Linked DNA regions of Homo sapiens. The protein of the gene in region 2 purifies or fractionates together with the protein of the main gene of each other region. This does not show direct contact. Each region holds a gene or a part of one and is shown on either strand. Other genes may lie near its edges. The genes, in order: AGPAT3, SLC31A2, PLSCR1, REEP5 and CDS2.

Region 1 (6,169 bases), on a different chromosome or scaffold from region 2:
TCAGTAAGAACAGAAATAATCGGCCTCTCCATCTGCTGGGCTTGCGTGGGTATGTGAATTCCGTCTGTGACTTGTTGGATTTGGGATGTTCTCCACTTAGATTTATTTCCATGAATATGTTTGTGGGAGCCTTTCTGCAGTCAGAGGTATGTGGAAGCCTTTGCCAGTTCAGGGGCGCATGGTGAGAGCAGACCTCACAGTGGGTTTGTTTATGTTTGTTTGTTTTTGAGACAGGGTCTTGCTCTGTCGCCCAGGCTGGAGTGCAGTGGTGTGATCTTGGCTCACTGCAATCTCTGCCTCCTGGGCTCAAGCAGTCCTCCTACCTCAGCCTCCTTGAGTAGCTGAGACCACAGGTGTGCACCATCATGCCCAGCTAATTTTTGTATTTTTTGTAGAGACAGGGTTTTGCCATGTTGCCCAGACTGGTCTCCAACTCCTAGGCTCATGTGATCCTCCTGCCTCAGCCTGCTGGGCTGCTGGGATTACAGGCTGAGCCACCGCACCAGCCACAGTGTTTTCTGATGACCCTGAACCACGGTTTTATTTTCAATTCTTCATTCCTGTTCTCATTCCTTAATGCTGGGTGCCTTCTTGCTGCCCATTTTGAACTCACTGCCAGTGTGTCTCTGCTGTCATCTGATGTGCAGAGCTATAGGTGCTGCGGCGAAGGGTGCAGGTTTGGAGCCGTTTAAACAACCTGGCCCAGCCTCCTCACTCCCTGCTGACCTTGGTCAAGGCTTCAGTCTCTAAACCTCAGCTTTCTCATCTGCAGAGCACAGACAAAACCACCTGCCTTTGAGCTGTCTTATAAAGCCTAAATCAATGCGCACAGCAGGTACACAGCAATGCTTGATAAATTGTTACTATTATTGGGTGAATTTTAGGTTTTTTTTGTTGTTGTTGTTGTTTTGAGACAGAGTCTCTCTGTTGTCCTGGCTGGAGCACAGCAGTGCGATCTTGGCTCACTGCAACCTCCATCTTCTGAGGTTCAAGTGATTCTCGTGCCCCAGCCTCCCAAGTAGCTGGGATTACAGGTGCCTGCCACCACATCCAGCTAATTTTTTTTATTTTTAAGTAGAGATGGGCTTTTGCCATGCTTCCCCAGCTGGTCTTGAACTCCTGGCCTCAAGTGATCCTCCTGTCTCGGCCTCCCAAAGTGCTGGGATTACAGGCTTGAGCCACCGCACCCGTCCAGAATTTTAGATTTTTTTAAATCCGTGGTTGAAAAATAGGCTATGGCTGGCTTACTCATTGTGCTTTAGGGAAGCATGTATTTGAGTGAAGGAAATGATAAAAGGAATTTCATATCGGGCCCAGGCGCCGCCCACCCTGCAAGACAGTTTACAGATGCCTGCCCTGACAGCTGTCTGCAGTTAGCCAGCGTCAGCCGAGGGGTCCTGAGATCCGCTGAAGGCTGCCTTTGCATGCCGACAGCAAGGGAAAAGTGCCACATGTCCCTGGGCTTGCCACAGGTGACCTTTGGATGGGACCATTCTCCAGACAGCGCAGCTCGTCTTTCCAGAACACTCATGGGGAGTGTGCCTGTGTCTGGCTGGCTGTGTGGGCTCCCATTCAGTTCATTCCCCTTCTCCAGCCTTTAGGCATGACCCTAAAGGCAGAGGTCTCAAGCACTTGCCAGGGGTGAGCCAGCGGTGGGGGCGCCCCTGCCAGGGCAGGCCTGCTGTGGGGGCTTGGTCAGCGAGTCTTCTCCCCACACGCAGGATTTCCTCCCGTCCACTGCCTCTGCCCACAGGTGACCTTTCTCTTTTAAAGGAATTGGGGTCCCTTGGTACCCCCACAAACCCTGAGTTCCCTCTCTCCTTTCTGCGTCCTTTCTGCTCGCCTGCATGTGCCTGCAGCATCATGACCGCTGGGAAGACACTTCCCTGCACCTGCACGCTGTCTGCAGGCGTCTCTGGCCATCCTGGGCTGAGCTGCGTGATCTCGGGTAGCGGCCCTTTGTTCACCCGTGCAGGATGTCTTTGGAATTGGTCTCTAGTGTCCTTTATAAATAACTGGTATAAAAGAACCCCGGGCAATGGCCTTGCAGAAAGCCCACACTTCAGAGCTGGGCTGGTGTCCAGCGCGAGAAGCCTGAGGCCGTCCTGAGCTGGAAGCCGCGTCCTGGTTCTGTGGGGCCATCCTTCCCGGACAACTGGCTGGGGGGCACAAGACTCTGGTGGCCGACAAGAGGCCCACCTGCTTGGCCTCCCTCTTGTCCTTCCCCACATGGCCCTCTGAACAGGACTAACTCCCTCTGAGGCCCACGTGTGACAAAGATGCACCGTTCTCACCACGGAACTCTTCAGCCCTGCAGTTCTCCCGAAGGTGAATGAGGGCATCCCAGAGTCCCCATCAGGAGACAGACGATGCTGCGTTCCCAGCAGCCCCAGAGCCCTCCCAGGCGTGCAGGTCTCCTGCCGGCAAACAGATCTCCCGGCACGAGCCCCTCCACACTTCTGGGAAGAGTGTCTTCAGCTCACCAGGCCGGAGCCAGGGGAAGAGACCAAGGGAGGAGGCTCCAAGAACCCCTGGGTGGGGGGGACAAGCACTCAAAGCCAGGACTGGCACCCCTCACATGCCAGCACCCACGGGGTCAGGTGTGCCCTGCTGTCTCTGGGGACCCCGCAGGCCTCTGGCCACCTGCCCAGCAGCAAGCCCCGTCGAGCACCCCCAGCCGGCCTTCCTGGGGGCGGGCTAGGCCTCACATGGCTTTTTTTTAAATATGGAAAACCAGTGTAACCCCAAAGCAAGTTTTAGGAGAAAATATAATTCCTATTACTCTGTCGTCTATAATTCCATTCTGCTCTTAACTCTTCATTTTTTCCCACTGTCTGTTCTGCAGACATACGATGGTTGTTTTCTGCTTCCTAATCATCTAGTGACATTTTTCATCTTCTGCACCTCTCACGGGGCGTGGCTGTGCGGTACTCGGCCACACCAAGGTGCACGTGAGAAGCGTAATTGGGCGTAAAGATCAGCGTCTCCATGCAGAGTGGCGGTTCTCTCCCTTTCTGCTGCTACCTTCCATCTGTCTCCTCCCAACTGTTGCTTAGAGAAAGTTATTGTAATTTCATAAAACGTACTCAGTGTAAGTCATCAAAACTCATGTTTAGCAGAGACTTCCTCTCTGGACAAAAATACTGTAGGTGTCTCCTGTGGGCGCTCCCTGACCATCCCAGGAGGAGGGGTCCTACCAGTGCCAACGCCCTCCCCCTGTCCGCAGAACTGGTCATGCTGCTGGAGTGGTGGTCCTGCACGGAGTGTACACTGTTCACGGACCAGGCCACGGTAGAGCGCTTTGGGAAGGAGCACGCAGTCATCATCCTCAACCACAACTTCGAGATCGACTTCCTCTGTGGGTGGACCATGTGTGAGCGCTTCGGAGTGCTGGGGGTGAGCGGGGACCTGGGGAGGGCCACGGGTGAGCAGGAGGGTCCCGGGGAGGGCCGGGGGTGAGCGGGGACCCAGGGAGGGCCGGGGTGAGCAGGGGGTCCCTGCAGGGCTGGGGGTGGGGTGGTGACTGGGAGTGAGCTGGGCGGGGTCCCAGGAGGGCTGGGGATGAGCAGGGTGGGGTGGTCCTGGGGAGGGCTGGGGGTGAGTGGGGGGTCCCAGGGAGAGGCTAGGGTGAGCACCTTCCAGGGGAGGTGCTGGGAGTGAGCGGCAAGGGTCCTGGGGAGGATCTGGGGGAGTAGGCGGGTGCTGGGGTGAGCAAGAGGGCCCTGGGTGGGGGAGGTACTGGGTGGAGCAGTGGGGGTCCCAGCAGAGGAGCTGGGAGAGCCTTGGGTTTCCCAGGGAAAGGGCTAGGGGAGCAGGGGACTCCCTGAGGAGGTGCCGGGGAGGCCCCTGGGGTCCGAGTCCCTGGGTGTTCCTCCTGGGGCGTCTCTTTGAGCTCGGCAGTGGTGCCTGGCTGGTTGAGGGGCCCTGGCCCGCAGGGCCTCAGCTGTCCCCGAGCTGTGCCCTCCTTTCTCATCATGGCCTTTGCCTTTGAGATGACCCCACCTGCGTCCCTGCAGAACCACTTCCGTTAGCTAAGCTGCCTCAGATGAAACCTAAACTACTCCCCGATGCTGGCAGAAGAATTTCATTGCAGTCAAAGCCCCTGTGTGAGGCAGCACCCCCAGGCCACCCCCCGGAAGCCTGGCAGCCTCTGCATCCGGCTCATCCACCTTCCCTGAGGGCCCTCCCAGCCAAGCCTGAGCCTCAGTTTCCTCATTTCTGGGGCGACCCACTCACCCTCAGAAGCCGGGTCCTGCTTCACAGCAGACCCCCTGAGCCACAAAGCCGTGACTCCTAGAGCGACACCACACAGGAGCTGGGTGCAGCGGGAGCCTGGCCAAGCCCCTGGCCTCTGTCCGACGCTGAAGTGCCAGGTGCCCCTCCTTCTCCTCCCTCCAGAGCTCCAAGGTCCTCGCTAAGAAGGAGCTGCTCTACGTGCCCCTCATCGGCTGGACGTGGTACTTTCTGGAGATTGTGTTCTGCAAGCGGAAGTGGGAGGAGGACCGGGACACCGTGGTCGAAGGGCTGAGGCGCCTGTCGGACTACCCCGAGTACATGTGGGTGAGTGCGCGGAGCAGCCCGATACCCTGCATGCCTGGAGGAGGCCACGCCAACTCCTGATGCACGGCTGCCCACATCCCAGGCTGGGAAACCCCATGAGAGCCTCTGCACATGGGGTGCTGTTTCCATGGGGCCATGACTCCCCCATCTGAGCTGCAGGCGTGGAGGCTTCTCTTGGGCCACCTGCTTGCTACTCGCCGCAATCCCAGCTCTGACCAGGCCATCCTAAGGGGATCTGGCCGGGGGAGGGGGCAGAGCAGGGTGCCCCCAGTGAGCCCTGGCTCTGCCCGCCCTGCTCAGTGTGCATCCCCATTCTTTTTCTGTCCCTTCTTCCTGGTCTGTCTTGGAAAATGGGCTGCCTGTGCTGTTAGCATTTCTGTTTTTTTGTTTTCTTGTTCGTTTTGTTGTGTGTGTTTTTGTGTGTGTGTGTGTGTTTGAAACGGAGTCTCGCTCTGTCGCCCAGGCTGGAGTGCAGTGGTGCAATCTCGGGTCACTGCAACCACCACCTCCCAGATTTAAGCGATTCTCCTGCTTCAGGCTCCCAAGTAGCTGACATTACAGGTGCGTGCCACCACACCTGGCTAATTTTTTGTATTTTTAGTAGAGATGGGGTTTCACCATGTTGGCCAGGCTGGTCTCAAACTCCTGACCTCAGGTGATCCGCCCACCTTGACCTCCCAAAGTGCTGGGATTATAGGCATGAGCCAGCTTGCCAGCCTGCTGTTAGCATTTCTTTTTTTTTGTTTTGAGACAGAGCCTTAGTCTGTCACCCAGGCTAGAGTGCAGTGGCATGATCTCAGCTCACTGCAACCTCTGCCTCCCGGGTTCCAGCAGTTCTCCTCTCTCAGCCTCCAAGTTGCTGGGATTACAGGCACTCACCACCACGACTGGCTAATTTTTGTATTTTCAGTAGAGACGGGGTTTCACCATGTTGGCCAGGCTGGTCTTGAACTCCTGACCTCATGATCCACCCGCCTCGGCCTCCTAAAGTGCTGGGATTACAGGGGTGAGCCACCACGCCCGGCCTGCTGTTAACATTTCTAACTCATGCTGTGGCAAGTCGATGAAACCCTCTCTGTTTTCACACTGCTCAGAGGCTGCTGCCCCAACACACCTTCATGTTTCACTTCTTTCTGGAAAGTTCTTTCTGGAGAGCTCTCCTGTGTGAATGAACGTGTGTGACTGGAGTGCAGACTGTGGCCCTAGAATAAAAGAACCTTTCAGTCATAACCCATGCTGCTCGCTAAAGCGGTTCCAAGATTTCCACAAATTCAGCCACAACCTTTGCTGCCTGTCAGAGAGGCAGGCCTGGCCTGGACATGCACCCACCCCAGCTGCTCTGTGGAGTGACCCTGTCTCCGTGTTGATCCTAGTTTCTCCTGTACTGCGAGGGGACGCGCTTCACGGAGACCAAGCACCGCGTTAGCATGGAGGTGGCGGCTGCTAAGGGGCTTCCTGTCCTCAAGTACCACCTGCTGCCGCGGACCAAGGGCTTCACCACCGCAGTCAAGTGCCTCCGGGGGACAGGTAGGCCCCAGACTGCCCGAGCCGGGGCCACCGCTATGCTCACGGAAAATAGTGATTTCTTTAAAAAAAAAAAAAATGAGTG
Region 2 (6,169 bases):
TTGTTCTCTTGCGACACTCGATCTTGGAATCTAGCCACTCTGCCACGAGGAAGCCCAGGCCATAGGAGATGCCACATGTAGGTGTTCAGCCAACAACTCCAGCTGAGGTCCTAGCTAACAACCAGTATCAGCCACTTGGCATGAGAGTGAGGAACTCTTCCAAATGACCCTACTTCCAGCCACTGTTTGACTATACTGCATGAGAGACCTTCAGTAAGGACCACTCACCTGGGTCCAGTCAACTCACAGAACCTTGAGAGAGAATGATAAAATGACTTGTTTTAAGCCACTGTTTATTCAGCAATAGATAACAAGAAATAGTAACCCATTGTAGGGCTGACCATAATTTATTTAATCTGCACCCGCAATAATGGGCATTTGGGCTGTTTCCAGTCTCTTTTTAAGATGCAGTTATTTAAGTTGAAAAATAACTTCTTCATGAATTAGTGACAAACTCTGCCTTTTCAAATCAAAGGAATATTCTTTCCTTTCAAATTGGTGTCTCATCTCCAGCAGCTGCTGTGGGCTTCTGAACTGGTGCAGAACAATGAGCCCTGGATAAGGGAGGTGCCAGGTGACACCCGGAGGCCTTGATCTAGTAGTGGCTCTGATGCGTACTTACTGTGTGACCCTGCACGAGTCTCTCTTCCTGTCTCTGGGCTTTAGTTTCTTGCCCTGTAACAGAGGGAAAAGCTGCCTCCCTGCCTCTCGGCCTTTGTGAGGATCAGTAAGATAATGGAGCCCTTTGCGATCTGAAGGGGAGTGGTTACAAATGGAATTATAACTGTGAAGTTCCTGCTCAGTGTTTATGCCAGAGGAATCAGCCTCACTTAAATGCCCACAGAGAATCAAGAGAACCCAGATTCTCCCTTGCCTAGTACTACAAGGCTTTCCAAGCTACAAGTCTGAGGTCCCCAATTCTTACCAGCAGGACTGTGGACACTCCAGAAATCAAACAGAAGCACCGCTGTATCTGAGAAGATGAAATGCATCTGAAAGAGAAAGGAATCTGCATCATAGGGGCACAGGGCAGTGGAAGTTACGGTCCTTAATGCTCTCCAGCACCTCCTCTGGGAGCCCAGAAAAATGGGGTCACTGGAAGTGCTGGAAGGGCCATCAGAAGTCATCAGGGCCAACTGAGGCCATAAAGAGCTGAGACTTGCCCAAGAGGGTCAGCAGCAGAGCTATAATTGAGCTGGCCATGCTCCATATGAGAATAGAGGTGTGGGAGTGTCCATCCTCACTGGACCAACTGGCTCGGGATGTGACAGTGTCCTCAGACTATGTGGGGATGTCCCCTCCATGCCTTCCAAGTGCAACTGCCTCTTCTTACCCCCCCGGGACCCTAGCCATTCTGCTGCAGCTCCAGAACAGGCTCCCGTGTGATGGAAGCCTGGAGTCCTCTTTGTCCTGTTCAGTCTAGACAGATCCCACAGTGTTTATCGTGGAGGGGCCCAGAGGCAGCTGTCTTCACTGTACTCCACATCTGCCTACTCATTCACTATACATTTGCTGAGCCCAGTTTGTGTGCCAAGCATTATGGAAGTAGGTTAATGTCTCTGACCTTGGTGAGTTCACAGCCTTACAGGAAAGACTGCAGGTAAAAGCAGTGACCATGCAGTGCCTGTCAGATGCCTTTTCAGAGGGTGCTTGCTCCACCTTGTGTTCAGGGTGGCATCAAGGGCTTTTTCTACATCATCTCATTTCATTGTCACAACAGTCCTCTGTGTGACAGGGACAATTAGGTCCATTTTACAGGAAGGAAAGTTAGGGAAACTAGACTTAGAGAAGTAATTTACTGGTGGTCACAAAGCTAGTAAGTTGGCAGAGCTGGGATTCAAACCTGAGTCTAGCTGGATTCCAAAGCCCTGGACATTCCAGGACACGGTGCTTCCTCCCAATCTCCAAGAAAGGAGGGTACAGTGGGAGCTGGATGGTGAGTTCAGACGCCCACACCAGGCTTAATGACTGTTTGGAAAGATGAGGGCCCAACAGATCTATCAGTTAGTTCACCCTCTCAGGGAAGTGAAGGCCCCCTCTGGTCCCCAGGTAAGCCCTCAGCTAGCACAAGCAGTTCTGCAAACACTGTCAGTGTTACCCAGCTAAGGAGATCCTGGCTGAGTTGTAATCAGCTAGTGGAAGCCTTTGCCTTCTAAGACAATGGCCAAATATTAGAATCCTTGAATCTCAGCACTAGAGGTATCCTCAGAGTTTTTAGTCCCATGGCTTTCAGCTTTCTTCACCAGGGAACACCAGCCAATTAAAATCTTTCTTCTAATTCCATTATGTAAAACACGGGGCTCAGGGTGGAGAGGGGAGAGAAATATGAGCTCTGATGAAACTCAGTTTGAAAAATGCTGATCTGGCCCAACTTGAGTCCCTCTCCACCCCCTCTCATTTCCAGGTGAGGAAAATGAGTATGAAGAGGGAAAAGGATTTGCCGGACCTCCTTATAAGCGGGTTACTCTCAGTTTCTGTTCAAGGGAGGAAGATATGGAGTGAGACTGTGGGTACTTGTGAAGGCTGTGGGGGCCATCAGTTCTTACAGAAAAGGAGTTCCGGTGGAGGCAAACGTCAGTGTGGGGGTGGAAAGGTAGGCAGATTTGATTAGCTGCCATTTTGTCAGGAAGCTGTGCCATGTGGGTGTCCTGTAGCCTCCTGGAAACCAGAGCCACAAACTTCTGCTTGCAGACGACAGCCCTAAACCACAGGCCTTGCATGTTCTAGTCGTCTCCAATCCTCCCCCTCTCAACAGTTAGGACCAAAGGAGATAGTAAAGAATAGTAGTCTGAGTCCAGGATTTGGAACAAAACACATTTGTTAACCAGGGCCTCTCTCTGGCCTCAGTTTCCTCCGAGGGGAGCTGGGGGAAAACTCTGCAAAGCCATCCACACAAAGTGACACACAGTAAGGGCTCAATAACCCCAGTGCCTTTTTTTCCCATACATGTCAAAGCTGGAGGGGTGTTTCTCAGAAGTGTTCCATGGGAGAAGTACAGGATGCTAGGAGGTACTGGGAAAAATGGATTCTATGGTCAAGGGAGTTTGAGAGAGACTGGAATTAGACAAAATAAGGTTTAATAGCTTTCTGCACTGCCAGAAGCCTGTACCCAGAACTCTCTCCTCCCCTTTTTCTCTTGCTGAGTGCCCTGTGGGAAAGAATCTCATAGACTATCCTCTAGGAAGTGCTAATTTAGAGCAACCCTCTTTTTTCATGCTGGGAGGGAAATGACACTGATTATTCTGTGCCAGGCACTCTTCTAAAAATGTTATATGTCTTAACTCACTCAATTTCAAGAGGGGAATTATTATTCTTAGCTCCATTTCATAGATGAGACTACTAAGGCAGACAGAGTTTAAGTAACTTGCCAAGTTGCTAGCTAGAATTTTGCCTGGGTGGGCTGGTTTCAGATTCTGTGCTCCTAACTGCTCTCAATGCAGCTTCTCAGGGCAGCACTGGAAGTCCAAGGGGCAGCTGTGACATGCCCAGGGTCACACTGTGAGTTGGTGGCAGCATCAGGACTGGATCCTGGGTCTTCTTACCAGGCCCTCATTTGGCAAGAGGAAAACAGATGCTACAACACAGAGAACAGCCCACTTTCTTGTGCAATACTAGACAGAGATGAGGGCTGTGCTGTCGTTCGGTTGTTTTAACATTTCAGGAAGATATGCAAACAGCAGAAGAAACTGATATGGCCACTTTGGAACAAAATATGGGAAGAAATTGGGGAGAGGAAGGAATGTATGAGAAAAAGCCTCTGTGCAATTAGGATAGTCATGCTTAGCCCCCGAAGGATGTTCAGCCAATAGCTGGCCCATATTTCCTGAGAAAGATGAAGAGTGCACCTTAAATAAAGGAAACAAACAAGGACCAGTCTGGGGATGGGACAGTAAGACCAGAGCCCAGGGACAACAGCGGACAACAGGATGAAAAGGCAAAGAGGATAGGGTGGGAGGGAGGACACTGGAGCGGATCACAGGTGTGGATGACGATGCTGTTATAGCCGGATCCACAGAGGCAGAGTCAGTCCCGGGTGAATCACTGGGAAACCACAGGCCAATCATGAGCTCCACACTGGCAAGCGGCTTAGTGTAGAGGGACAGCAGCAGCTGCTTAGACTCCAGGGCCTTATTAAAAGTACAGATTCCTGGGCCTCCTCAGGCCCCTAAATCAGAGTCCAGGGTCAGAGCCACAGGAGACAGGGAAGACATAGATTTTAACCAGCCCCCTTCAGGAGATTCTGAGGCTCAGTTCACTTTGTTGCAGTTTGAACAGAGGCAGCAAGGCTAGTGGTTAGGGGCACGGTCTCTAAAGCTGCACTGCCTGGATCTCCCTCCCAGCTCTGCCAGGAACCAGCTGCGTGGCCTTGAGCTGCTGACACGCAGAAAGCCCCCTGTGGACCCAGTCTCCTCGTCTGTAAGATGAGGACAGGACTCTAGGAACCCTTTCCCTTGGTTTGGCCTCACTTTCACAGGCTCCCATCTTGAACTCTATCTACTCTTCCTGAAACCTTGTAAAAGAAAAAAGTGCTAGCCTGGGCAACATGGCAAAACCCTGTCTCTACAAAAAATACAAAAATTAGTTGGGTGTGGTGGCATGTGCCTGTAGTCCCAGCTACTTGGGAGGTGCTGAGGTGGGAGGATCACTTGAGCCCGGGAGGTGGAGGTTGCAGTGAGCCAAGATCATGCCACTGCACTCCAGCCTGAGTAATAGAGTAAGACTCTGTCTCAAAAACAACAACAATAACAGTGAGTGTGCCTCTGTTTCCGGGTTGGATGGGGCACCACATCTATGCATCTCTCAGATTTGGACGCTGCAGCCTGGGGTTTGGTAGAGACCTGGGACTAACCTGGCTGTTCTACTCCCTACACTCAGCTAACATGCCTTTCAGTGCCAAAAGGGGTCTGACTTGTGTCACCAACCCCTGCCTGCGCCTACCCAGGGACTGGGCTCACTGGAGACCGTGGAGCTGCAGGACAGAGAAAGAAATGTGAAAGCATCTGATTGGACAGAACAGCCACACAGCTCTGTGTCTTCTGAGGGACTGCATGTGCCTGTACCACGTTCACCTTCCATTTATTATGTGTCACTCCCTGTGACATCTCCGCAGGTGCCTACTATTATTAACCTCTTTAACAAGGAAGGTACATAAAAGCCCACTTATCTCCCCATGGTCACTCGGCAATCAGGTACCCAGAGCCAGAGAGTTTTCTGGAAAGCCTGTACTGGTTCTCAAACCTTAGTGTACTGGGTGTTTCTGGGACAGGTGTTTCTAGGACAGGTGTTTGTTGGGGGTCACACTTTGAGAAATCATAGGAACCATGATGGTCTCCTGTCAACCAGTAGGGACTGGTCAAGTAAATTATATGAGAGCTTCAAAATGGAAATCTAGGCGGTCACATCACAACATGATAAAGATCATGTTGAAGACTTTAAAAAATGTTGAAGAGTTTAAAAATAAGAATAGCTTTTACCCCCCACCCCCAATGGCACTAGCTCAATGTAAAAAGCTGACACAGTACCGAAAAGAAAGTAAAAAATCATTTTGAGTCTTACTACTCAGAGATCTCTCCTGTTAGGCTTTCAAAAAAAAAAAAAACATTTTGACACAGCAAAATGTTTACGCAAGATTGATATACAAAACCAAACAGGTACAAACAATACTGTGAAACTCCATTTACACCGGAGATGGCCTCATCCTCAGCAGAAGCCTCTAGCACCATCTCTGCCAGGTAGAGGTAGGGGTGACACCCATCACCCCTTCTCTGAGTCCATTTGGTAAAGCAGATGGTATGAATGGAATGTCCCTAGTGGCTAATTAATCAGTCAGGGAGTTGCCATAACTGGTTTCCTTCTATCATCCTTGGGCCTGGGCCAGTTATCTTAGGAGCCCAAAACAGCCCAGACATGTTTTGCCATAGACCTGAACACCCACAGAACAGTAAGAGTAATTTGAAAGATTTCTTTTTGTTGTGCTAGGTCTGTGCAGACCCTGGCGATACAGAGATGAATGGGACAAGTCTTTGGCCCTTAGGGAGCTACCTGTCTATGAGGGGGGACATTTAAGTGAGCAAATAATTACAACAGGTTGTAGGTCAGAGAAAGGGAGGCACAGTGGAGGCTCCCTGGGGGTGCTGGGGACCAAGCCGCCTGAGAGACACCTGCCCTG
Region 3 (6,169 bases), on a different chromosome or scaffold from region 2:
TACTGTTTTTTTTGAAACAGTATTTTTTCAAAATTTTCAAAACAAAAATTTTAAAGGAAAGGAAATCAATATGTCAGAGGTATCTGCAATCTCATGCTTATTGCAGCACTAACAGTCAATATATAGAATCAACCTAAGTATTCATCAATAGATAAATGAATAAAGAAAAATTCATTCTTAATACACACAATGGAATAAAAATCAGCCATAAAAATGAATGAAATCCTGTCATTGGCAGCAACATGGATGAGCCTAAGGGACATTATGTTAAGTGAAATAAGCCAGGCACAGAAAGAAAAATACTGAATGTTCTCACTCATACATGGAAGCTTAAAAAAATTGATTTCTTAGAAGTAGAGAGTAGAGGCCAGGCGCAGTGGTTCACGACTGTAATCCCAGCATTTTGGGAGGCCAAGGCAGGCGGATCACAAGTTCAGGAGTTCAAGACCAGCCTGGCCAGTATGGTGAAACCGTCTCTACTAAAAATACAAAAATGAGCTGGGTGTGGTGGCAGGAGCCTGTAGCCCAGCTACTTGGGAGGCTGAGGCAAGAGAATAGCTTGAACCCGGGAGGCGGAGGTTGCAGTGAGCCGAGATCGTGCCATTGCACTCCAGCCTGGGTGACAGGATGAGACTCCATCTAAAAAAAAAAGTAGATACTAGAATAGTGGTTACTAGAAACTGTGAAGGGTAGGGAGGAGAGGTATAAAGAGAAGTTGGTTAATGAATACAAAATTACAGCTAGATAGGAGGAATAAATTCTAGTGTTCTATAGCTATGTAGGCTGACTATAATTAACAATAATTTATTGTATATTTTCAAATAGCTAGAAGAGAGGATTTGGAATGTTCTCAACACTAAGAAATGATAAATATTAAAAGTGACAGATATGCTAATTATCCTTATTTTTCATTACACGTAGTACATGTGCATTAAAATGCCAGACTGTACTCCATAAATATGCACAATTATTATGTGTCAAAAACAATTCAAAAGGTAGAAAACAATCTTCCTTCTAGAATAGGCTGAAGAAATATTGGTAACTTTTTTAGCCATCAAAGAGATTTTTTTTTACAAGTTTCAGATTTGTATTAAGCATACTTAATATCAACCTTTGTCATATGTGATAACATCCTTTATGTATTTTATGAGACTCTGATTTTTAAAATATCTATTTCTATGTATTTCTTGCATAATATAATAATGACCAAAAATTCCTATGATTATGCCACTTAAGCACATTGTGGGAAATTAAGTTACTAAAGAGAGTGCAAGAAAGAAATGATTTATGAAATGAAAACTGGTTGAATATCACAAGAATATTTGTATGTGTATAGACTGGACACACAGAGTTTCTTGTTTCTATTTGACCTACCTGATTTCTAACACCAATTAAATGTTAAACCTCTTATTGCTGAGATTAATTATAATTTAGTGCAACAAAATCCAGGACTTTTTACTCCTTTATTAATGGCATTTATAAAATTAGGTCTTCCAAAGAACAAAAGCAGCATCATAAAAATGCAGTTTTATTAGTTACAATAAAAAGGTGAGTCATATTATACATAAAATATTAACCCCTTGTTTGGGGCCACTTATTGAAACTCAACAATAAACTTTATTTAAATTTTCTTCCAAATTATAAGGCAATTATTCAGTATTGAGACTAAAGAGCACTTCGCTCAGTACCAAAGTTTCGGGATTAAAAAAACAGTCTTGACTCTTTAGGTTCTCACCCCAGAGTGAGCTATATAACCTCTCTGGACCTCAGTTTCTTCTTTTGAAAAATGTAGCACCTATACATCACAGACTTTCAATAAGGATTAAATGAGTTAATACATGTATCAGGCATACAACAAAGGCAGGAAACAGTGCTAATTAAATGTTTGCTATTGGCCATTATCATAGATTGTATTTAAGATAACAGAAAATACAATTTTCTAAGGCATTTGTATTTTGCTTTAAAATTGAACCAGACCTAGAAGAATTAGAGTAATCTGTTAGCAGAAAATACAGTTTTGCTATTTCAGACTTTGGTGAATTATTCATTTGCTAATCTGGTTAAGCAAGCTGGAAGCACAGTTCTGTTTTTTATGAGTATTTTGTGTCTTTGAAATTACCTGACTTAAATATTCTAATCCAGGTGGACAGTTTAATGGAGGCTGTGGCGCTGGCATCCATGGTACCCCTGCAGCTCCAACTGGCTGATTATATACTGGCTGATTATACACTGGCTGATTTGGGACAGGAAAGCCAGCTGGGCCAGGACCTGAATGGCCGGCTGGTGGGGGTGGGTAGCTGACCTGGGGCCCAGGGTAGCCACTATATCCTGGAGGTCCTGAAATACAAACAAGTGAAATGATTTGTAACTGCACCAAAAATGGAATTGTCAACCTTTTTAGGGTTATGCCATCTATCTATAAGTTGACATTTCAGCGTAGACATCTGTATCTGTGATGTTTAATACGCTTTTCTCTTTCTGAGATTTTTCAATGAAATATCTGTGGTTGCACATCCACTTCTATTTGGATGATAGTATGCGGTGAATAGCCTTACCCTTACCATTCAAAACTCAGAAGGAAAATATGCTTTAATATCTGAGAAAATGAAAATAAATAACCATGATCTAGAGTCACCTACATAAAGATTCTGGCAAGCCTTCAAGGGAAACAAACACGTCATTGGTAGAAGGCCCAAAATAATGGCTTTGAGTCAGCATTTCTAGGGCCAAAGTATCTTGTGAAAAATGATAATTCTGAAATTCTAGCAAATGCCTTATAATATATGTATAGAACTGGGGGTAGTTTTGCCCCCTCTCTGCCAGGGATATTTGACAAGATCTGCAGACTTTTTTTGGTCACAACTGGAGGGGAAGATAATACTGCATCTGGTGGGTAGAGGCCAGGGCTGCTGCTACACATCTTAAAAGAGCCAGAACAGCTCCCTAAAAATGAAGAATTGTCCAGCCCAAAATATTATAGTGCCACTGTTGAAGGTGAAAGCACGTCATTTCTTTCTTTCCATTTTTTTTTTTTTTGAGACAGAGTCTTGCTCTGTCGCCCAGGCTGGAGTGCGGTGGCATCATCTCTGCTCACTGCAAGCTCCACCTCCTGGGTTCACACCATTCTCCTGCCTCAGCCTCCTAAGTAGCTGGAACTACAGGCGCCCACCACCACGCCCAGCTAATTTTTTGTATTTTTTAGTAGAGACGGGGTTTCAGTGTGTTAGCCAGGATGGTCTCGATCTCCTGACCTCGTGATCTGCCCACCTCAGCTTCCCAAAGTGCTGGGATTACAGGCGTGAGCCACCGCGCCCATTCGTTTAGTACACGTCATTTCTTTTAGTACATTCCAGATGCCTGCTTGGGTTAATCCTTTGCCTTATGTTTTAATCCATAATGTATTGCTTTCCTAAGTCCTTCTTCATTAAAATAAAATTCTATTATAATATTTAGGTTAGAAATTTAAATTTCACAATTTAACATCCTTTGGTCTCTGGAAAATATAATTTGAGAAACAAGGATGGCAAAAAATTGTAAGAGGCAGAAATTTAATAACAGTAAATGTACTTCATATTCTCTGCGAATGTGTGATTACAATGAAGATTTATATACCTGTTTGTATGGTCCACAGTGTAGCAATTCCATAGCAGTGGAATACAATTTCAAAGGACTGTGTTTCTCAATATTTTAACATTAAAGCCTATGCAAAATGTAATACTTAGAATAGGAAATTTACAAATTCTTTTAAATGGATCATTTATGATAAAATTCATTTGCCCTTCAAAAATAAGGCTTAGAAAAACAGAATAAACCTCACAATAATGCATCATAAATATAGCTTTTATAATTTATTCCTTTATGATGAATGAATATTTACAAATGATCATAATGTGACTGGCTGTGTTGTAGAATATGAGGATACAATTCTCAAGGAGGCAGCCTGCTGTCAGAGAGCTTACAGTCAACTTCTGGGAGAAAGAAAACACATTTAAAACAAAAAAAATTCATATGGATGTGATGGAGAGAATGTATGCGAGCGAGGGCAGGGTATGAGGCAGTTACTTTGGGTAAATATAATTTATATCAAGGTCTAAAAGATGAGAAGAGAAAAGCTTTATATGAAGATTAGTGATAAATGCTTCAGGAGGAAAGAAAGGCAAATAGAATACCTCTGACTTTGTAATGAATTTGACAGGCGTAAAAGAGAGAGGAATGTCATAAGAAAGAAGACGACTAGGAAAGGCTGTTAGCAAAGCAACAGGAAGCTGTTCATCAAAGGAGGCCTTAGTAAGGAGTCTGGATTTGGTTCCAATTATGATTGGCAAGTACTGGAGGAATTTAAGCAGAAGAATGAGTTCCATGGTCTTATCTATATCTTACAAAATTTTCAGGAGTGGAAAAGCATTAGAATTTACAATGGAAAACACAGATGCAATCCCTGCCCATCATTGTTTAATGAGAGAGACAACTTTATATCCCCACTTATTCTAGGGAGCTATAATACCAGTGTAATTAATTGATTCATTAGAATTGGAGATAAATGCTTTCAAGTAAGAGACCACGGTTTTATGACTAGAGATGCCAAAGGTCGCTATTGAGATGGGAAGAGAAAAAGGGAAGGAGCAGGAACAGCTGCCTTGAGGGGTCACCTTTATGCTGAGATCTGAAGGATGCACAGGAGTTCAGGAGGCCAGAGTCACAGAAAGAACATTTCAGAGCAACGTCCTGGGACAGTAACTAACATAGGCCTTTAAAAATCTGAAAAATAGCCAGTCTAGCTGAATAACAGCAAGCCAGGCTCAAGAGGAAGTTAAAGAGAGAGCATGGAAAAGGCCATCCTGAGTTTAGTGTTAGCCTTTATCCTAAAAGTAATAGGCCACTAATAAAATAGGGGCTCTACACTCTCTGTAATATGAGCAGATTTACATTTTTAAAGATCACTGGGGTCAGCACAGAAACCAGACCATAGGCAGACCAGTGGGGATATGGAGATGTGAGTTAATTTCTTACATTTTTAACATCATCATAATTTTCCCCAGACTCTGAAAGTATGATGGATTACTCCTCAAATCAATGAATTAAGCATAAAGAATTACCTGAAATTTGAATACTAGTATCATTTATGTAAAGACTAATTGATTTAAAATATTTTAAATATGTTAGCAAATACTTGTCATTTATAATTTGCAAGCATTGTGCTCAGTGTTTTACATATACTCTCATTTACTCTACAAAGCAACCTACATTGAAAATATCACCCTTATTTATAGATAGGAACTCTGAGGCTTTGAGGTACTGCAACTTGTTTAAACTACCACATAACTATTAGTACAGAAGGCAGAACCTGGTTTACCAGCACATTTACCTATACGAATTTTTTTTTTAAAGTAGGCAGAACTTGAAGCCTGATACAAACTTCCTATGCCTCAGCTTTCCCACATACATAATGGGGATAACTGACAGTATTTACCTCATAAGAGTATTCTAAGAATTAAAAGTGTTAGTCCACATTAACTCCACATTTAAAACAATGACTAAAGCATGGTAAGATCTCAATTTTAAATTATCCTTACTCTTAGCATCGTTATCTTAAGACTTGTGCTATATGTAATCTTGGACTTGAGAAACAAAATCAAGCTGTAGAGCCATATATATCTATATATATAAACAAACTCTCAAGTCTGATTATATCTGAACTGTATTATTTATGTATATCTACTTTTAATTAGTGATAGGGTGGATTAAATCATTCTCTTAAGTGCCTTGGATGAATATTATAGACTTACTAATGATTTTTCAAACACCAACCCTATAAGAATTTAGAGCAGATGTTCTCAACCCTGGCTTCACCTTAGAATCACTTGGGGTGTTAAAAGATTACTATTCCTTGAGTCCCACCACTGGAAGCTATGATTTAATTTTTCTGGAATAGTGCCTTTGCACTACTATTTTTAAGTGCTTCTGGGTGATGATACTTCAGTGCAGACAAGGTTGCCATGAGCCACCACTTGAGAGTCTGAGCTTATCTAGCTCATATTCTTTCAGTTGCAAACATCTGGATGAGATCCGGGACCCGCAGGGAGGTTTCTTGCTAGGCAATTAAACATGACATTCAGCTCCTAAGCACATTTGTTTACTCAGAGAAGAAAACACAGTGGGTACATCCTTC
Region 4 (6,169 bases), on a different chromosome or scaffold from region 2:
GACTTTGTTTTATTCGCCAAAGTATCTCCCAGATGTAGAACAGAATCTGGCACATGGAGGTTCTAAATAAATCTGCTGAATAAAGGAATGAGCATATGTAAATTTCATAATCAAGAAAAAAAGCTTTTAAATTTATTTTTAAACCCTCTTGCTCAAGGCCAGATGTCAGAGCAAAGCTCAGAATATGCATGATCCAATTTCTACCTAAATACATCATATATTATCTTCTCAACTAAGCTTTGATGCCAAGCCATTGGCTCCTTTTATTTTCCTCCAATCTTATCAGCTGCTTTAGAAAAATGAAAATAAAGCCAACAATATTAACTCTGCAAAAAATAAAATATTAAACATGTCCTCGGGCTGGGAGCAGTGGCTCACACCTGTAATCCCAGCATTTTGAGAGGCCGAGGCGGGCAGATCACTTGAGGTCAGGAGTTTGAGACCAGCCTGGCAAACACGGCGAAACCCCATCTCTACTAAAAATACAAAAATTAGCTGGGTGTGGTGGTGCGTGCCTGTAATCCCAGCTACTTGGGAGGCTGTGGCAGGAGAATCGCTGGAACTGGAGAGGCAGTGGTTGCAGTGAGCCAAGATGGCACCACTGCACTCCAGCCTGGGTGACAGAGCAACACTCTGTCCCAAAAAACAAAAAACAAAACAAACCCATGTCCTTACTTGTAAGTCTCTTTCCCACACTTCCAGTCAGCATGCGATTGCAACAGCATAGGTAAGATGGATTCTAGTCCCTAAAATTCAATACTCTCCTGAACCTTCTCCTACAGACGAGACTCTGCAATTCAGAGGCCTCTTCTCAGTCTGTTCACTAGGTCATTCAGAGTATGCCACTAATGTAGGAAGAAAGTATTTTGATTGACAGCATCATGAATGTTTAATCCTTTCAAGTATGTTATCTATTTGGAATGTATGCAATAAATTCACTTTCATGAACACTATGATGCCATGCAGCTGGAGACTACTAATGGATGCACATTCATTTTACCATTAGGGAAGAAAGTCTGCTACAAAGCAATATTTTAAATGAACTTCAAAACCAAATATAAATGATTCAGTGACTACCATTTATTTTGGATCTTCTCTCTACCTCTCTGTGAACTCCATTAGCAGAGGTGATTAGGAGTAGGCTAGAAGTCAAGCTTGCTCACATTTGGAAGTCTGAGGTCAGAACTACTGCAAGTAGTTCTGCTGACAAGATAGTGTTCACTGCCACAAGCAAGTGGGCCCAAAGCAAAAGCCAATTTCTTTCCACTAAAGACTACTGTGAGGTCCCTACGATTAGATGGATCTTATTAAGGGCTTTAAAATTATCTGAAGTTTAAATTATGTCATGTCCAAATTAAAGATTGTAAGAATATTTTTATAAATGTTAAATGACTTTGAATAATAAAAACAAAAAAATCCAATCTTTGAAATCAACTCTTTCCACAGACCAATTTTTATTTTCTTCCATCAGTTTTGAAAGGAAAATTCTTAATTGCCTTACAAGGCATTCTGTGGTGAAGTCATTCAAAAATATAAAAGAATCTATACTGAGCATGTTTTCATTTAATTTTTTAAACTTTAAAAGACACTCACTTCATATAGTGTCTTGTCTTTTTTCTTTTTTAACCATAAATGGTGTGATACTGTATTTAATGTTCTATTACTTTTTTTCTTTTTCGAGACAGGGTCTCACTCTGTCACCCAGGCTAGAGTGCAGTTGGGTGATCATTGCTTATTGTAGCCTTGAACTCCTGGGCTCAAACCATCCTCCCACCTCAGCCTCCTGAGCAGATGGGACCACAGGCATGCACCACCATGCCTGGCATTTGTTTTTTGGTTTTCGGTTTTTTTTTTTTTGGTCAACATGCTGTGATCTGGGAGCCTGGTTAATTTTTAAATTTGTGTGTGTGGAGACAGGGTCTCACCATGTTGCCCAGGATGGTGTCAAACTCCTGGCCTCAAGCAGTCCTTCTGCCTTGGCCTCCGAGTATGCTGGGATTACAGGCAAAAGCTAGCACAACTGTCCTGTATAACTTTTCATAATTACTAAATTATGCAAAAATTTCTGGGTCTGTACATATGGATCTATTTCATTCCATTTAACTGTATGGATATACTATTAATTGAATGAACCATTTACCTGCTGATGGACATTTCTGTTTATAATGTTTACATTATGCAGTTCATATTATATACAGTTGACAACAAAAAATGCTGCCATGAATATCTTTGTGCAGCTCTTTAATGCACAGTGACTATTTCCTTAGAATTGTTAAGAGTATCATTTTTCAATTCAACAAGAAATGGTTAAAAGGTCCCTTAAAAAGGTTATTCAAGTTTATACCACTAGGCTGTTAAGTATCCCTTATGTGAAATGCTTGGGACTAAAAGTGTTTCGGGTTTCACATTTATTCAGATTTTGGAATATGTACATTATACCAACTGAGCATACCAAATCAGAAACTCTAAAATCTAAATGCTCCAATGAGCATTTCCTTTGATCATTATGTGGGCACTCAAAAAGTTTGGGGTTTTAAAGCATTTAGGATTTCCAATTTCAGATGTTCAGCCTGTACCATTACATGTCCATTTCCCTATACATTCACCAATACCAGATATTTTCAATCTTTAAAATATCTGCCAGTTTAATGAACAAAATATGGGATTTCACTATTTTAACTCACACTTCCCACATCACTGGTGAGCTGTTTACTAGCCATTCATATTTTTTCTCTTCCGTGAAATACTTAACTTAGAACCTTTTCCCATTTTCTTTTTCTTTTTACTTATGGAAATTGTTATGTATTCTGGATATTCCTTATTTGGTGTAAATGTTGTAAATCTATCTTCCTAGTCTGTCATTATTTTAACTTTGTTTATGCTGCCCACTGTCATATAGAAATTTAATTTTTAGAAATTTTTAGTTGAATTTATCAAATCTTTTTCTTTGAAACTTTTGTATTTTGTCTTGCTTCTATACCTCAAAGTTAAAAAATATTGTCCTCTACTTTTTTCTAAAACAGAGGTTTTGGCATAAAAGTCCTGTCTTTGCAAATCACTCAGGAAAACAGGTGGACACTAACTAAAGGCAGTTACTTCCCTACCCCTCCTGCTCCAACCCCTAGAGCTGTGAACTATAACCCAGGATCACTTCCTTTTGATGCTGCTTTGCTGGGGTAGAAGGGGACTGTACAGTGAAGCTTTGACCTGAGGAGCTCTTCTGTAGGTGAAGAGTGGTTAACTATGGTTCCTGTGTGCCTGGGGCCCCCCACTCCTAGGACTCATCCACCCCCTACCCAGAACTTACTAGTACTAGCATGGACTGGGGCCCCCTCCATTCCAGTGCCTGATGGGATAGCTGATACTCATGGATGAAAAGCAGTTTGTAGGCTAAAATAAAAAGATATTTTAAGAATATATTTCTTTTTTTTTTTTTAGAGATGGAGTCTGGCTCTGTTGCCTAGGCTGGAGTGCAGTAGTGTGATCTCGGTTCACTGCAACCTCTGCATCCCAGATTCAAGCAGTTCTCCTGCCTCACCTCCTGAGTAGCTGGGACTACAGGTGCACTCTGCCACACCCAGCTAATTTCGTTTGTATTTTAGTAGAGACAGGGTTTCACCGTGTTGCCCAGGCTGGTCTCGAACTCCTGAGCTCAGGCCATCTGCCCGCCTCGGCCTCCCAAAGTGCTAGAATTGCAGGCATGAGCCACCACGCCTGGCCAAGAGTACATTTCAAAAGAAAAACAACACAATCAACTACAAGTTTTGGTCAGGAGCAACAATATTAGAACTGCTGACCAAGAATTTTAAACTGGGGAGCGGTAACCATACTAAAAGAAATGAGAAAATATTAGCAATATGAAACAAGGACAAGAAGAAGAGAGCCAAGCAAAAACATTAGGTGTGAACAATATAATAGTTGAAATGAAGAACACGGTATATAGCAGGAATAACAGAATGGTTATAATGTAATCATGGAGTACAGTTGAAAATTAGATGGTCAGATTGAGTCCGGGCACGGTGGCTCACGCCTGTAATCCCAGCACTTTGGGAGGCCGAGGTGGGTGGATTGCTTAAGGTCAGGAGTTCGAGAGCACCCTGGCCAACATGGTGAAACTCTTTCTCTACCAAAAAAAATACAAAAATTGACCAGGCGTGGTGGCACATGCCTGTAATCCCAGCTACTCGGGAGGCTGAGGCAGGACAATCACTTGAACCCAGGATGCGGAGGTTGCAGTGAGCGGAGATTGTACCATGGCACTCTAGCCTGGGCAACAGACCAAGAGTCCATCTCAGAAAAAAAAAAAAGGAGGTCAGATTGAGAAATCTCCCAGAAGAAGTACAAATAAATAGATTTTTAAAAAAACCAACCCTGTCTCTACTAAAAATACAAAAATTAGCCAAGCATGGTGGTGGGCGCCTGTAATCCCTGCTACTCAGGAGGCTGAGGCAGGAGAATTGCTTGAACCTGGGGGGTGGAGGTTGCAGTGAGCCAAGATCATGCCACTGCACTCTAGCCTGGGCGACGGAGCAAGACTCCATCTCAAAAAAAGAAAAAAAAAAAAAAAGGCTAAGACCAAAGACAAAAAGAATTATATATCCATAATTAACCAGAACTAAAACTCAAGATACTACCATTTATGATGGTGGTTGGAGTGATGGAGCTTCCTATATTTAATTTCCTATATCTAAATTTCTTTAGATAAAATTGTTTAAAAGAGTAGCCAGGTGCAGTGGTGTGCGCCTATGGTCCCAGCTACTCGGGAGGCTGAGGCAAGTGGCTTGCTTGAGCATTTTTTTGTTTTTGTTTTTTTTGAGACAGAGTCTCGCTCTGTTGCCCAGGCCTGTCTTCTTGTTTATAATCTGAGACAGAGCCACAGATGCACAACATTCAAGCATTTATTCCTACTTCTTCTATACAGGTACTGAGATGGAGTTTTAGTGGTAGCAAGACCAACATACCTTCAGCATGTAGTAGAAGGGGAACCATGACAGGAAGATATCAGAGAAGAATTCAGCAATGCTGAACACACCATACACTACCCAGTAGGTCAGCCACTGGGTATCATCTTCTTTGTTGGGACTCTCTATAGCTTTAATTCTGAAAGGCAGTACAAAAGAAAGTATATCATTTGGTAAGATATCAATGAAAGATTTTCAAATACACTTTCATAACCTGTCCTCTGATACCACTGAGAAACTTAGGCACATGTAGGCACTGTGTCACTAGATGCAAGAGTACAGCTTAAAGACTGGAAGCAATGTGGATATCGGGACAAGCCATTATAACCACTTGTTTCTAGTCTCCTGGTCACCAGAGAAACCAGCACCAGCTGTTACTGCCCTGGATCTCCACCCTGCCAAAGCCTCCCCACAAGTCCTAGAATATACCACTAGTGACTGGGAGCTAGAGCAATTTCCACTCCCAAGCTGGGTCCTGCCACGAGGGATATATCAGGAAGAATTCTCTCGTGATAACCAGGTTCTTATGTACTTTTAATAATTGAGATATATCATGGGTGAATAAGAATTTCCCATAAAGCAACATTTGGAACATAGGTTAGGTACTGCCCAAAATCCACAGCATATTTTATAGTAAACGGGTGAAAACAAACCTCATGGTGTCTATTTAGTTCAGAATGTCTTTAACTGATCCACAGGCTATGGACTTTCCTCCTCTCCTCAGTTAATAACAGGACTTTCCCAACCCTAACTATTGCTTAAACAAAATTCATTCTGCAAATGGATGGAAATACATTTAAAATAATTTTCTAAATCACAGAAATTTCCTTCAGTCCTAGGAATCTCATTATTCTAAACCTGAAGCTCCACAATTTCTTATCCTAACAGATCTAGATATTTATCGTAACTGAGCTGGACTGAAACAGTAAAATAAAAGAACTCTGAATCTTGTTTAGCCTATGAAACAGGTTAACTACTGAAAATACATTGACAGGGAGCTAAGCTATGAGGATGCAAAGGCATAAGATACAATGGACTATGGGGACTTTGGGGAAAGGGCTGGGGGTAGTGAGGGATAAAAGACTACACATTGGGTACAGTGTACCCTGCTCAGTTGATGGGTGCACCGAAATCTCAGAAATTGCCACTAAAAACTTATCCATGTAACCAAACGCCACCTGTTACCCAAAAACCTATTGAAATAAAAA
Region 5 (6,169 bases), on a different chromosome or scaffold from region 2:
TTGTGCCACTGCACTCCAACCTGGGCTACAGAGGAAACTCTGTCTCAAAAAAAAAAAAAAAATTATGCATATTTATGGTAGCTGTTATTATCATTGCATAATGTTACTATTATTCCCATAATTATTCAGGGCAGTGCAGTGTAGGATCCTGCTGCTGGAAAAAAATATTTTTTTCTTCAGATAGTCAGCTGTAGAAACCATCCAAGTGGATACAGAAGCAGAGGGCACTACATTTCCCTTGGTTTTTTTGTTTGTTTGTGTTTTGCCTGATACCTTCTTTAAGATATAAGCTAGGTTTATTTTTTGCCAAGTTTGGTTGTGACTTAGGCATTGGTACTAGTGGTCCTGCTCCTGCCAGCATGTGGCTGGTGCCTCCGTCACGGTGAATCTGGAAAGGACTGAGCTCAGGGCCCTCATCTCAGGAAGATCCATATCCCTTGAGTTTGTGCATTGGTTTTTTTCTGGGCTCCTAACTGGTGTTTTCTCCTTCCCCTGCTCTCTGACCTAGATGGAAGAACTGGTGGGTGAGAGGCATCCTGACTTTGGCCATGATTGCATTTTTCTTCATCATCATTTACCTGGGACCAATGGTTTTGATGATAATCGTAAGTGCCATTTCACACTATTTTAGTTTTCCCTTCAGTTTTTGCTGCAGGCCCGGTTGTCTTAAGTGCGAGGTGTTGGGTTGGTTGTGGGAATTGACGGGGGTCCAGGCTTCTCAGAAAACCTCTGCCATAGAACATCTGTGACTTCCCACTTCTCAGTAGCCACCTGGAGGGTCATTGGTGTAGGCTGGTTGTTTATGGTTGAAGATGTCTCAGTGTCTTTTCTTTTAAAAAACTGACTTTATTGCCTGTGATCCCAGCACTTTGTGAGGCTGAGGTGGGCGGATCACGAGGTCAGGAGTTTGAGACCAGCCTGACCAACATGGTGAAACCCTGTCTCTACTAAAAATACAAAAATTAGCCACGCGTGGTGGCACGCGCCTGTAATCCCAGCTACTCAGGGGGCTGAGGCAGGAGAATCCCTTGAACCTGGGAGGCAGAGGTTGCAGTGAGCCGAGATCATGCCACTGCACTCCAGCCTGGGTGACAGAGTGAGACTCCATCTCAAAACAAACAAACAAACAAACAAAACTGACTTTATTATTCCAACTCTGTAAACTTTTACCCTGGGCATGTCTCTATATGACTCCTGGTTTCGTTTCCTGTTTTCCTGGGGCCTCCCTTCTGGGCTTAGAGCTTTTGTTAAGGAAATCCCAGTCCACAGAGCTGCTCTGTCTGTCTTCCCACTGTCCTGGACAGGGTCAGGTGACCATCAGCTGCATGTGAGCAAAGCATTTGACTTTGAATACTTGAGACTTTTCAAGTATTCAGAGTCAAAAGGAGAATGGATTGGTTGAATCCTGGGAGGTTCTAGAATAAAAAGTTAAAAAGGAGGTTTTAGAATAAAGTTAATTGAGGGTCAGGCATGGCGGCTCACGCCTATAATCCCAGCACTTTGAGAGGCCAAGGCGGGAGGATCACTTGAGCCCAGGAGTTCGAGACCAGCCTGGGAAAGAAGGTGAAACCTCGTCTCTACTTAAAAAAAAAATCCTTTTGGCTGGGTGCGGTGGCTCACGCCTGTAATCCTAGCACTTTTGGAGGCTGAGGCAGGTGGATTGCTTGAGCCCAGGAGTTCAAGACCAGCCTGGGCAACACGGTGAAACCCTGTCTTAAAAAAAAAAAAGTTAATTGAAACATCAGGGTGTGTATTTTATTGTGAGTGGAAAATTGGATCTACTCCCTGTGACATAGAGGGCTGCATTGCTCTGTGGGATGGTATGAGAGAGGAAGAAGGAGGGAAGCAGAACCACTGGAGGCCCGATATTTTTCTTAAGTATAATGGGTTTTCTGGAAGGCTCATGACCTGTTGGTTTCCATTTCCAAAAATCATAAGAATTGGGGTGTCAGTGAATGTTTTGTGTCCCGCAGGTGATGTGCGTTCAGATTAAGTGTTTCCATGAGATAATCACTATTGGCTACAACGTCTACCACTCATATGATCTGCCCTGGTTCAGGACGCTCAGCTGGTAAGCTCTCCGGCCCCACAGAGGCTTTTAGAATTTGGATGATGTGCTTTGTGGCAGGTACTTACAGTGACGGTGGGTATTTCTATCACTTGCTATAGAGATAAATGCTGGAGAGGCAGTTATCATGTTAGGTCATACAAAGTTTCATGAAGAAAATGGTATTTGAGCAATAAGTGAAGAAATGGGTAAGAGAATGTTAGGAGAATGTTAAGAGAAAGTTAAGAGAAAAAGGCAGGAGAAAAGAGGTGATTGCCACAGACTCGCACAGTGCCTTTGAGACCTGAGTATTTCATAGGCCAGACTGTGTGGTTGGCCTTGCAGGAGTCTTATAGTTACTTGAAGTCTGGAATCTTCCTGAGAAGAAACCAGATGGGCTGCATTCTGTGACTGTGTTTGCCTCGCTATTTGGATTCCTTAAACTCTGCATGATGATCCCGTTTTTCTAGATCAGTATATTTTTCATGCCGTCATATCTCAGCATCCCACTAGAGTTGTCTGGAAGTTGTTAGGTTCTGCTGCCGGCTTTGCTTGTTATCCTTGGAACTTGGTTTCCTTATCTCTAAGACAGATGGTTGAGACTTACTGGTTTCCAGACTGTGGTGTTTGAGCCCTACTTCATCAGAGGTGTTTTGAGTGCCAGAGTGGGCAGGAGTGAGGCTGAATGCATGGGATCTGGGCTCCGCTGGGAAAGTTGGCTTTCTCCGTTTCCTGGGAAAGGATTCAGCTTTCTTAAAGCAAAAAGAAAAACCTGTAACACATGTCTGAGACCCCTTTCTGATCTGAAACTCTGCTTTATTGGCCGTAGTATTCTCAGGTGGTGACTTTTGAGCAGAGCACTGCACCATGCTGAGAGGACCTGGGGCAAATGTGGACCTTCTCACCCCACTGTGCAGGGATACAGGGGTTGAAGCCATGACTTAGCCGGCTGGAGAGCAGTGGTTTTTGCCCCAGCAACCTGGTCACTGTCAAGGAAGCCGATGTGCTCAGATGTAGGCTGGGCACCCCCTTCCTGAGGTGTTTCCTGTCACCCAACAGACAGGCTGCCTCCCAGCCTCCAGATGGAATTGGGATTGCCACCTGGCTTAAGATGCAGGTCCCTTTTGTGGCTGTTCTTTAGCTGGAAAGCAGTGTTTTGCATTTTGTTAACATACTCAGGAGGCCTGACTCCTGGCTGTGGTCACTTTACAAAGAAAGTTTTTTCCATGTAACAGAAAAGAAACCCAATATGGGAGTTTTTGTACTTCATAATTTAAAAAAAAGAATGGGAAAGAAAAGCTCTCCACTTTCTTCTCTATCTCAGGATCCTTGCTGGGGGTTTGCAGTGATGGCTGCATGGTGCCATACTCAGCAGTACTGTGGAGGCTGCAAGGGATGGCTTCTCTTCTCATGAACGCCAGTTGAGGAGAGAGAATACACAAGTGAAGAGTTAACGCTAATGGAAGGTCTGTTTGTCAGAGCCAGGCTTCAGAGAGGCAGATGCATCATTAATTGCTTAGTCAGATAATCACATATTACTTGCTATAGAAATAAATGCAGGGGAGGCAGATGTCATGTTAGGTCATGCAAAGTTTTATGAATAAAATGGCATTTGAGCAAGGAGTGAAGAAATGGAGAAGCAAAGAGAATGTCAGGAGCAGGAAAAAGGCAGGAGAACAGCAGACAGGTGTGGCAAAGCCGGAAGAAACCATTTTGATAGGAGTGAAGGAGTTCCTGTTGGGAAGAGTGGAAACGAGACTGGGGAAGCAGGATGAGGCGTGTTTTTGAAGGTCATATGGTTCAAGGATCCCTCAGTTAGGTATGGGAATGCTACAAAAGGGGCAAAAACGGAGTCTCAAGTTTGGGAGAAATGGAGAGTGAATGAAAGCTGCTGTCTGTTTCTAGATAAATTTCTCACCTACGGTGTCACCAGAGAGCAGGAAACCATGGTCTGCCTGTTGCTCTGTGAGCTGTCCCGGGGGACTCAAGGGTGGGGGGTATTCTGCTGCCCTCTGTCCCTTCCTCTGGGATGTCTGACTGCCTTGCTGTGAAGGCAAGGGTGCTCCCCACGGCAATGACCTGTCTTCATTTACAGGTACTTTCTCCTGTGTGTAAACTATTTCTTCTATGGTGAGACAGTGACGGATTACTTCTTCACCCTGGTCCAGAGAGAAGAGCCTTTGCGGATTCTCAGTAAATACCACCGGTTCATTTCCTTTACTCTCTATCTAATAGGTATGCATTAAGCAGTTCACCATTTCTTGTGTCTGTATTGTTTTTGTATGTCTGTCAGGTAGGAATTGGGGAATTTCTTGGTTAGTATACAGTTTTGTGACATTAACTGTGACCATGCAGGGGAGCAGAGCTGATGCTCTATGTTAAGCTGTAGCAGCTGTTACCTTTTTTTTTTTTTTTTTTGAGCCAGGGTCTCACTCTGTCACCCAGGCCAGAGTGCAGTGGCACCATCTCGGCTGACTGCAACCTCCACCTCCCAAGTTGAAGCGATCCTCCCACCTCAGGTCCCGAAGTAGCTGGGACTACAGGTGCCTGCTACCATGCCCAGCTAATTTTTGTATTTTTAGTAGAGACCGAGTTTCGCCATGTTGGCCAGGCTGGTTCCGAACTCCCGAGTTTAACTTATCCGCCTGCCTTGGCCTCCCAAAGTGCTGGGATTACAGGTGTGAGCCACCACGCCCGGCCTTGTAGGAGCTCTTTTAAGAGAAGCAGAGTGTAGGGGCAGGACTGTGGCCTGTGCCACCTGCCCCTGTGTTTCAGCCACCATTGAGGAACAGCACAGCATGGTCCTGTCCTGACTCTCCTGTTGGCAAAGATTCTGCAGTGGGACCGAAACAAAAATCATCTAGGAACTTACCATCTTTAGGGGAGTCATTTTAGGAGACCGCCTTGGGTGACATTGTAGCATGGTGGAAATTTTACTGGATTTGGGCGTAGACTCTGCAACCTCAGGGGGAGCTAGGAACATAATATTTCTGAGTCTCAGCTCTTTTGTAATCTAGAGCTAAAACTGCAGGGTTACTGTGAGGATTAAATCAAATACATTAAAACTTCACAAACATTAAAGCGTTATATTAGTATACATTCAGGTAAGGCCACGTACTAATTCTAATAATGCTGATGGTTTTTCATAGCTACCTTCAAAGCTAGTTTGAGGTGCACGAAAAATTTGTTCTGACCTCAATGTCAATCTGACCTATTTTTGATCAGCTTGATAGCAATACTTCTGTGAATGACACCTGACTATTAAAATATAAAATCTGCAAAGGGGTCTGCTGCCATTGAGGATATTCAGAGAGTATGCTGCAGACCCCGAAAGCAGCCTTCCACAGTGGGAGGTAAGGGGTCTGGAAAAGCGACATGCTTATTTCTGGGCAGAACTGCTTTTGAGGATCTCCGCATGTTTATGGATAAAGGTTCCTTTCCTTCCTGGAGAAGGGGTCTGCGGACATGTTGTGCTACCATCTAGGTCACTGTGAGAGAGATAAAAAGGTGGTCTTGACCCTATACCATGTGGATCCCTCTTCTCCCAGCCCTATGAATACTAGGACAGGTATTGGCAAACTTTTTTTTTTTTTTTAAGGGGAAGCAAGTTTATTAAGAAAGTAAAGGAATAAAAGAATGGCCCTTAGAGCAGCCCCGAGGGCTGCTGGTTGCCCATTTTTATGGTTATTTCTTGATTATATGCTAAACAAAGGGTGGATTATTCATGTTTCCTTTTTTTAGATCATATAGGGTAATTTCCTGATGTTGCCATGGCATTTGTAAACTGCCATGTCACTGATTGGAGTGTAGCAATTAGGACAAGCAGAGGTCATTCTCATTGCTATCTTGATTTTGGAGGGGTTTGGCCAGCTTCTTTACTGCAGTTGTTTTCTCAGCAAGGTCTTTATGACCTGTATCTTGTGTGACCTCCTATCTCATCCTGTGACTTAGAATACCTAACCGTCTGGGAATGCAGACCCTGTAGATCTCAGCCTCATTTTACCCAGCTCCTATTCAGGATGGAGTTGCTCTAGCTCAAATGCCTCTGACATTTCCCCCATCACTTTTATAAGAGAACCCTTAATCCTAAGGGTTGCAGAGGGACGAAGATCCATCCTCTGT

The links.
Region 1: the proteins of SLC31A2 (region 2) and AGPAT3 purify together in Homo sapiens (affinity purification with mass spectrometry; one large-scale study listed by BioGRID and IntAct). This does not show direct contact.
Region 3: the proteins of SLC31A2 (region 2) and PLSCR1 purify together in Homo sapiens (affinity purification with mass spectrometry; one large-scale study listed by BioGRID and IntAct). This does not show direct contact.
Region 4: the proteins of SLC31A2 (region 2) and REEP5 purify together in Homo sapiens (affinity purification with mass spectrometry; one large-scale study listed by BioGRID and IntAct). This does not show direct contact.
Region 5: the proteins of SLC31A2 (region 2) and CDS2 purify together in Homo sapiens (affinity purification with mass spectrometry; one large-scale study listed by BioGRID and IntAct). This does not show direct contact.

The regions. Positions count from the first base shown.
Region 1 is NC_000021.9:43,964,720-43,970,888, forward strand, and holds part of AGPAT3 (1-acyl-sn-glycerol-3-phosphate acyltransferase gamma), read left to right. Parts: intron 1-3,226; coding exon 3,227-3,396; intron 3,397-4,398; coding exon 4,399-4,560; intron 4,561-5,933; coding exon 5,934-6,087; intron 6,088-6,169. UniProt on the Homo sapiens protein: Converts 1-acyl-sn-glycerol-3-phosphate (lysophosphatidic acid or LPA) into 1,2-diacyl-sn-glycerol-3-phosphate (phosphatidic acid or PA) by incorporating an acyl moiety at the sn-2 position of the glycerol backbone.
Region 2 is NC_000009.12:113,152,550-113,158,718, reverse strand, and holds part of SLC31A2 (protein SLC31A2), read right to left. Parts: intron 993-6,169; coding exon 926-992; intron 1-925. UniProt on the Homo sapiens protein: Does not function as a copper(1+) importer in vivo. However, in vitro functions as a low-affinity copper(1+) importer.
Region 3 is NC_000003.12:146,526,495-146,532,663, forward strand, and holds part of PLSCR1 (phospholipid scramblase 1), read right to left. Parts: intron 2,338-6,169; coding exon 2,120-2,337; intron 1-2,119. UniProt on the Homo sapiens protein: Catalyzes calcium-induced ATP-independent rapid bidirectional and non-specific movement of phospholipids (lipid scrambling or lipid flip-flop) between the inner and outer leaflet of the plasma membrane resulting in collapse of the phospholipid asymmetry which leads to phosphatidylserine externalization on the cell surface.
Region 4 is NC_000005.10:112,897,419-112,903,587, forward strand, and holds part of REEP5 (receptor expression-enhancing protein 5), read right to left. Parts: intron 5,101-6,169; coding exon 4,962-5,100; intron 954-4,961; exon of another isoform or gene 1-953. UniProt on the Homo sapiens protein: Plays an essential role in heart function and development by regulating the organization and function of the sarcoplasmic reticulum in cardiomyocytes.
Region 5 is NC_000020.11:5,174,675-5,180,843, forward strand, and holds part of CDS2 (phosphatidate cytidylyltransferase 2), read left to right. Parts: intron 1-508; coding exon 509-605; intron 606-1,973; coding exon 1,974-2,071; intron 2,072-4,142; coding exon 4,143-4,282; intron 4,283-6,169. UniProt on the Homo sapiens protein: Catalyzes the conversion of phosphatidic acid (PA) to CDP-diacylglycerol (CDP-DAG), an essential intermediate in the synthesis of phosphatidylglycerol, cardiolipin and phosphatidylinositol.